2 separate regions of the Homo sapiens genome follow, and region 2 is reported to be linked to region 1. Evidence: microRNA targets listed by miRTarBase, many of them from high-throughput screens and not tested one by one. Region 1 holds a microRNA gene; the other region holds the end of a gene's coding sequence.

What was found. The annotated mature microRNA hsa-miR-3064-3p reads UUGCCACACUGCAACACCUUACA and lies in region 1 at 2,810-2,832, shown strand. An mRNA with a match to its seed (bases 2 to 7 or 8) in the 3' UTR can be bound and repressed. Matches are read on the target gene's strand: a 7mer-m8 pairs with bases 2 to 8, a 7mer-A1 pairs with bases 2 to 7 and ends in A, and an 8mer does both.
Region 2: the mRNA of MTR is a reported target of hsa-miR-3064-3p. Seed matches in the 3' UTR shown: 7mer-A1 at 1,631-1,637.

What each region holds. Positions count from the first base shown.
Region 1 is chr17:64,499,538-64,503,606 of GRCh38, reverse strand. MIR3064 (microRNA 3064) reads left to right here and starts at 2,768; the gene lies at 2,768-2,833. It overlaps DDX5 (DEAD-box helicase 5), which reads left to right. Exons shown (of 13, transcript NM_004396.5): 6 at 36-177; 7 at 259-419; 8 at 509-681; 9 at 1,058-1,168; 10 at 1,384-1,445; 11 at 1,538-1,597; 12 at 2,834-3,058; 13 at 3,281-4,069. The coding sequence ends at 3,684. It overlaps MIR5047 (microRNA 5047), which reads left to right and starts at 2,294; the gene lies at 2,294-2,393.
Region 2 is chr1:236,897,352-236,901,412 of GRCh38, forward strand. It overlaps MTR (5-methyltetrahydrofolate-homocysteine methyltransferase), which reads left to right. Exons shown (of 33, transcript NM_000254.3): 33 at 207-4,061. The coding sequence ends at 293. Among named protein-coding and RNA genes, the nearest start is that of MTR, 100 kb to the left of the region's middle.

The sequences.
Region 1 (4,069 bases):
CAGGTTTGTGCTGAAAGCTGTTTCTCTTTCCTTAGTGTTTGGTGCTGGCACCAACTCGGGAACTGGCCCAACAGGTGCAGCAAGTAGCTGCTGAATATTGTAGAGCATGTCGCTTGAAGTCTACTTGTATCTACGGTGGTGCTCCTAAGGGACCACAAATACGTGATTTGGAGAGAGGTATGTAATGAAAAGGGTTTTATTTGTCATTGGTGCTAAATATCCTAGGTATTGTAGTTACACTTACGTATTTAATTAAAGGTGTGGAAATCTGTATTGCAACACCTGGAAGACTGATTGACTTTTTAGAGTGTGGAAAAACCAATCTGAGAAGAACAACCTACCTTGTCCTTGATGAAGCAGATAGAATGCTTGATATGGGCTTTGAACCCCAAATAAGGAAGATTGTGGATCAAATAAGAGTAAGTGTCCTTTGAAATATGTGATCAAACTGAATTGTGTTTTCACTCTTAAGAGTCTGATACTAATTTTTCCCCCCAAAATCCATTAGCCTGATAGGCAAACTCTAATGTGGAGTGCGACTTGGCCAAAAGAAGTAAGACAGCTTGCTGAAGATTTCCTGAAAGACTATATTCATATAAACATTGGTGCACTTGAACTGAGTGCAAACCACAACATTCTTCAGATTGTGGATGTGTGTCATGACGTAGAAAAGGATGAAAAGTAAGTTTTATTAACTCTGTTATATTTGCTTCCTAACAACTTTGCTGTAAAATTGAGGGATCATTGTTTGGTGAGTTGTTTTAGGTTATTTCAGTTGGTGTGATTTCATTTAGTTAGCCTACTAATCCTGAAAATTTCTTGAATCCTTCAAATAATGGCTGTCACCATTTATAGCTTTCCTATAGAAGGAATTCATGTGTCCCCTGGTTGACTTAAGGACCAAGGGTCGAACTGCTCGATAAGTGGATTAGCAGGCGTTTCCTCTTTGACTTCCAGCCATGTAAATTGAACTTAATGTTTTGCTGACCATAAATGTGTGGCCCTAGCAATGGTCTTTTAAAACTCAGGATTTTTCCTTTCTCTCTCCTATTATTAGACTTATTCGTCTAATGGAAGAGATCATGAGTGAGAAGGAGAATAAAACCATTGTTTTTGTGGAAACCAAAAGAAGATGTGATGAGCTTACCAGAAAAATGAGGAGAGATGGGTATGTGTGAGCTCCTCCATTGAAGCAGATTGATTAAAACAGCTTAGGAAAGGGCAAACTTGGATCACGAGCAGTGGATTTTTTTCATATCTGATAGTGAATTTAACTTTTTCATTTCTGGCGAAATTAAAGAGATCTGTGACCAAAAGTGGTCAAGCACTGGAGTCTGAGGTTTTCAATGTGAGTTTAATAACACAACTTGTCTTTTAACTTAGGTGGCCTGCCATGGGTATCCATGGTGACAAGAGTCAACAAGAGCGTGACTGGGTTCTAAATGGTAAATATTTCAAATGAAGTATTTTTCCCCCTTACTTAACCTAGCTAGAATTCTGCTCAGATAATTGATCATGTATATGCCTTCCTTTGTAGAATTCAAACATGGAAAAGCTCCTATTCTGATTGCTACAGATGTGGCCTCCAGAGGGCTAGGTTAGTACAAACTCGCATTCATGGCTTGGTTTCCCAGAAGATCTCCATTTAACTTTTTTAAAGAAAGTTTATTGCTTTCTTTAACCTGCATTTTTTCTAAGTTTTTTTTCACATAAAGGTGCTGTCTTTGTGGCAAGGCCTAGGCATGACAATCGGAGGACTCGAGGGGGATGGAGGACTAGTGATCGGCTGGCTGCTTCCAGTCGATTAGAGAGGTGAAAAAGCTGAACGTGTGCCAGTAATCTTCAAAAGGCAGAACATATCACCTCTGCCCCGTAAACTGTTCTCTCCGAGGGAAAAAATGGAAGTTATCCTCACAGTTCACTGCCGTGGTATTTCTTCTGTCCCATGCTTTGCATGACTGCCATGGTACAGCCTTGTTTCAAACTGTTCACTGTGATCTGTGGGTCTTTGAGTTTCAGTGAGTTTGCTGAAATGTCGAAGAAGTAGTTCCAAACTTCAATGTTCAATGAAATTTTTGTTCAAGTTTGAAATGGAGAGAGCAGCTTTAAAAGGTACTAAGCCTTTTACAAATTGGTGAGTACTGGCACATGAGATCTAGAGCAGGAGCAACTTCTCACACATAGTAAGTGGGAAAAGAAAGTGCTTTGAAAGTTCCTCCCTCACCTACACAGTAGTCGTCATGTCGAGACCTGCCAGAGAGAGACACATTCTCAAGTGAATCCTGGCTTCTTGGAAGCGCTTGCCTAGACGAGACACAGTGCATAAAAACAACTTTTGGGGGACAGGTATGTTTTCTTGCAGCTGCGGTTGTAAGGTCTTGGCAAGACAAGCAGTGTGGCCAGAATTTTGAACTTCTGATGAATGTGTAATGCAAAGGACCTTGTACATTTTTTTGTTTCAAGGTCCTCAAAATGAGCACATGAAGAGGTTGCTGTGAAACTTTAAGTGGCCCTACTGCGCAGAAGCATTCAGATGTCACTTGATGATCTGTAAGGGAACTTGCTGATTTGGGAATGTGCTTAGGGAACACACATTCCTTTTGACAGGGTCTGTCACTGGGTGGGTGATGAATTATACAGATGACATGTGCTTTTTTTTCTTTTTTCAACCTCAATGGTATTCCTACAGGAAATGGATAACCATTTTAACTGTATTTTTTGCAGCCCGTACCTTCTTGGGAATACAATTGTCTAACTTTTTATTTTTGGTCTGGCTGTTGTGGTGTGCAAAACTCCGTACATTGCTATTTTGCCACACTGCAACACCTTACAGATGTGGAAGATGTGAAATTTGTCATCAATTATGACTACCCTAACTCCTCAGAGGATTATATTCATCGAATTGGAAGAACTGCTCGCAGTACCAAAACAGGCACAGCATACACTTTCTTTACACCTAATAACATAAAGCAAGTGAGCGACCTTATCTCTGTGCTTCGTGAAGCTAATCAAGCAATTAATCCCAAGTTGCTTCAGTTGGTCGAAGACAGAGGTTCAGGTAAGGATGACTGATAGGAAATGTTGGTAGTTACGAGTCACATCGTTGTCTACAAATCCATTTAAATGGTATTGGAGGGTGAGTAAAACCTTGAATGTGAAAACTTAAGCTGAAAAATTGTAAAAACATTTCACGCCTACCATGAATAGATCTGTTTCTTTCTGTCCACAATGATTTGTGTCATAGACATAATTGATCAATTTGCAATTGTTTTCTTGACAGGTCGTTCCAGGGGTAGAGGAGGCATGAAGGATGACCGTCGGGACAGATACTCTGCGGGCAAAAGGGGTGGATTTAATACCTTTAGAGACAGGGAAAATTATGACAGAGGTTACTCTAGCCTGCTTAAAAGAGATTTTGGGGCAAAAACTCAGAATGGTGTTTACAGTGCTGCAAATTACACCAATGGGAGCTTTGGAAGTAATTTTGTGTCTGCTGGTATACAGACCAGTTTTAGGACTGGTAATCCAACAGGGACTTACCAGAATGGTTATGATAGCACTCAGCAATACGGAAGTAATGTTCCAAATATGCACAATGGTATGAACCAACAGGCATATGCATATCCTGCTACTGCAGCTGCACCTATGATTGGTTATCCAATGCCAACAGGATATTCCCAATAAGACTTTAGAAGTATATGTAAATGTCTGTTTTTCATAATTGCTCTTTATATTGTGTGTTATCTGACAAGATAGTTATTTAAGAAACATGGGAATTGCAGAAATGACTGCAGTGCAGCAGTAATTATGGTGCACTTTTTCGCTATTTAAGTTGGATATTTCTCTACATTCCTGAAACAATTTTTAGGTTTTTTTTGTACTAGAAAATGCAGGCAGTGTTTTCACAAAAGTAAATGTACAGTGATTTGAAATACAATAAATGAAGGCAATGCATGGCCTTCCAATAAAAAATATTTGAAGACTGAATTAAGTGGAAATTGTACTTTATTTTATATAATGTCATGTAAAACTTTGCTTAAGATGGTCTGGTTTTTTTTTTGTTTTTGTT
Region 2 (4,061 bases), not on the chromosome of region 1:
TCTAAGCATCAGATGTTTACTACATGTTTTTCTGCCCAGAGAAAAAGGCAACTTGGTAGATAAATATCTATCTCCATTTAACTCTGTAGATTGCTATTAAGACAAGAAATGCAAGGTACTTAATGTTTCTTGGCAAATCTTGTGGAAACTTCTATTCCAAAAGTCTTATCATGTTGGTTTAATAAAATGCTTCTCATCTTTTGCAGGTTGAGGATTATGCATTGAGGAAGAACATATCTGTGGCTGAGGTTGAGAAATGGCTTGGACCCATTTTGGGATATGATACAGACTAACTTTTTTTTTTTTTTTGCCTTTTTTATTCTTGATGATCCTCAAGGAAATACAACCTAGGGTGCCTTAAAAATAACAACAACAAAAAACCTGTGTGCATCTGGCTGACACTTACCTGCTTCTGGTTTTCGAAGACTATTTAGTGGAACCTTGTAGAGGAGCAGGGTCTTCCTGCAGTGCCTGGAAAACAGGCGCTGTTTTTTTGGGACCTTGCGTGAAGAGCAGTGAGCAGGGTTCCTGTGGTTTCCCTGGTCCCTCTGAGATGGGGACAGACTGAAGACAGAGGTCGTTTGATTTCAAAGCAAGTCAACCTGCTTTTTTCTGTTTTTACAGTGGAATCTAGGAGGCCACTTAGTCGTCTTTTTTTCCTCTTAGAAGAAAAGCCTGAAACTGAGTTGAATAGAGAAGTGTGACCCTGTGACAAAATGATACTGTGAGAAATGGGGCATTTTAATCTAAGTGGTTATAACAGTGGATTCTGACGGGGAAGGTGTAGCTCTGTTCTCTTCGGAAGACCTCGTTTTCTAAAGGCTGGACTAAATGGCTGCAGAACTCCCTTTGGCAAAAGGCATGCGCTCACTGCTTGCTTGTCAGAAACACTGAAGCCATTTGCCCCAGTGTGGTCAAGCAGCCATGCTTTCTGGGCATTTTCGTCCTCCCATAATTTCATATTTCCGTACCCCTGAGGAAACAAAAAGGAAATGAGGAGAGAAAGTTACTGTTAAGGGTGGTTAACATTTTTTTTGTTTTGTTTTGTTTTGGTTTTTTTTTTTTTGAGACAGAGTCTGGCTCTGTCGCCCAGGCTGGAGTGCAGGGGCGCAATCTCGGCTCATAGCAAGCTCCGCCTCCTGGGTTCATGCCATTCTCCTGCCTCAGCCTCCAGAGTAGCTGGGACTACAGGTGCCCGCCACCACACCCGGCTAATTTTTTGTGTTTTTACAAAATACAAAAAAGTAGAGACAGGATTTCACTGTGTTAGCCAGGATGGTCTTGATCTCCCGACCTCGTGATCTGCCCACCTCAGCCTCCCAAAATGCTGGGATTACAGGCGTGAGCCACCGAGCCTGGCCGGTTAACATCTTTTAATTGTTTCCAGGATTGAGCAGGTTCTCAGCTGGGCTCTGATATCCCGTGCGGAGTTGGACAAGTGGGCAGCATAAAGTCACTCATTTCTTACCATTTTATTCCCCTCAATTCTCAATATATTCAGTAATGAAGAATGGTGCCACCACTCAAGCAACAAGCCTCAAACTCAACCATGTCATCTTTTTCTTGGATGATTGCAGTTATTTCAAAAATTTGCATGCAAAATATACACTCATCCTACTTCAAGATGGTGGTGGCAATAGTCAGGAGAAGGTAACATTGGAGTCCTGGTTTGATTCGAAGGATGAAGACGAAGAAGCAAGGGAGGAACAAATGAAGAACCATCTTTGTTCATGAATAGGAATATTCAAGATTATAAAGGTATCAGGTCTCCTAAAATTGATCTATGGATTTAATACCATTTTCAATGGAAATTCCAACAGATTTTATTGAATGAAACAAGCAGGTGTTTATATGGAGTAGCAAAGGACTTAAAATTACCAAATGCTTCTAAATATGAAGGAGAGGTTGGGGACACGCACCCTATGTGATACCAAGTTTTATTGTCAAGACAGTGTCATGGTGCAGAGGTAGGCATTCTGAGCAGGGGAACAAAATAAGGGCCTAGAAACTCACCCGTGCATATGTTGACCTTTGCAAAATGACCTGGTGACATGGCAAGTCAGTGGGGACAGGAAGGACCACTCCCTAAGTAATCCCAGAACAATGGCTATTCATGTGGGAAAAAAAGAAATTTTACTTTCTCTCACCTTACCTGGTGATAAGTTCCAAATATGTTAAGGGCTTTAATACAAAAAGCAAAAATTGTCAGTGTTTGGATGAAAAAAGCCTTAGGGCAGGAAAGAATCTCTTGAGACATAAAGTAGTAATCATAAAGGACAAGATGGTTAAGTCAATTCTGTTAAAACTCAAGGCTTATATTAAGCAAACACTTGAAGTGAGAAGATGATCCACAACTTGAGAAGACATTTATAATACAAATAACTGATGAAGGATTCATAATCACAAATATAGAGAATTCCTATTTAAAAAAATAGAAAAATAGTGAAGACTACACAAGAGGAAATAGGGCTTTTAAATAAATAGATGTTCTGTAGCATTGGTCAGGGAAATATGAATTAGGACCACAATGAGATTCCATTTTATATCCATAAGATTTGCAAAGGTTGGGTCTGACAGTACCAGTTGTTAGATCTGTAGGGACTTGTACAACATTGTGGATGTGTAAACAGGCACCACTGCTTTAAAAAACAATTATCCCTTACAGACTTGAACATTTGCAGACGTTATGATCTTGCTTCCAACTCCCACCTGTATGTCCAGCAAACTCTTGCATGTGGCCACTAGGAGGAATGTGTAAGAATGTTCATAGTTACATATTTATAATAGTTAATAACTGGAAAAAGTGAAATGTATGTCTGTCTACAGGAAAATAGGTGAATAATTAGATATATATATTCATTCTACGGGATATTATTCAGTAGTGGAAATGAGTGAACTACAGCTATACCTCACAATAAGAATGAATCTCAGAAAATATTAAGGAAAAAAGCAAGTTTGAAGAGACCACATGGGGCGTACTATTTTTATTGAGCCCAAAAACAAGCAAAACCAAAGAATATGTAGTCTAAGCATACGTATACAATAAAACTATGCTATTAAAAAAAAAGAAGGTAACTGATAAACCAAAATTGAGCATAGTAATTACCCACAGAAGGAGGAAGTGGAAGGGACAGGAGCACATAGGTAGATGCCAAGTTATGCAGCTGTTCTGGTTCCTCCTGGTAGGCTTACAAGTGTTTACTATATGCTATTAATACATTATACTTTATAACTAATAGATAACAGTTTTTTACATATTAAATATGTTCTACTTAAATATATTATAAAAAATAAAGGCAAAGTGGAATGATAACCTAAAATCTGGTATGGTGATTTTGTAGGTAATGTTTGTATATGTCAAATACAGTTTTTAAGGAAAGGAAGAACATCTTAGGGTAAACAGCAGCTAGAAAGGTGAGGGGCAGGAGAGTGGTGCATCCTTGCTGCTGCCAGCAGTGCCCAGATACCAGGCTTTGGGGAATGAGTGGATGGCTGGACCATTTGCTAAGACAGAGGCCAGGGGATGGGAGAAATGATGAGTTTTGGAAAGATTCGATGTGACTAGACTGAATATAGGCAGTTGGATACTAGACTTTGGAATTTAAAAAGAATGTCTGGAGTTAGAATTGAGAGACTTGAACGTGGAGATGGAGGTCAGGCTGCAGTGCGATGGGATCATCTATGGAGCATATGAGGAGAAGAGAATCTGGAGGAGGAGGAGGGGGAGCCAGCAGGGGAGCAGCTGTGGGTTGGAGGAAGCCAGGAGGGAGAGTGCAATGCCGAGAAAGCAATGAAGAGCGTTTCGAAGCATGCCAGCAGAACCCAATGCTGCAAAGAGGCCTGGGAATGGGATTGCTGAGGGCCCTTCTCACAGTGAGCCCCTCAAGAGCAGCGTCAGGGGATTGTGGGGACTGTTGGCACACAGCTGGCTTTGCTAGGTTGAAGACAATGGGAGGTGTGGAAGACTTGTTGACTCATTTAAAGAAGATTGGAGGGAAAGGTAGGATTGAGAGTGTTTCAGACAGAAAAAGGATTATATGCTGAGGGTAAAGCACAAGTAC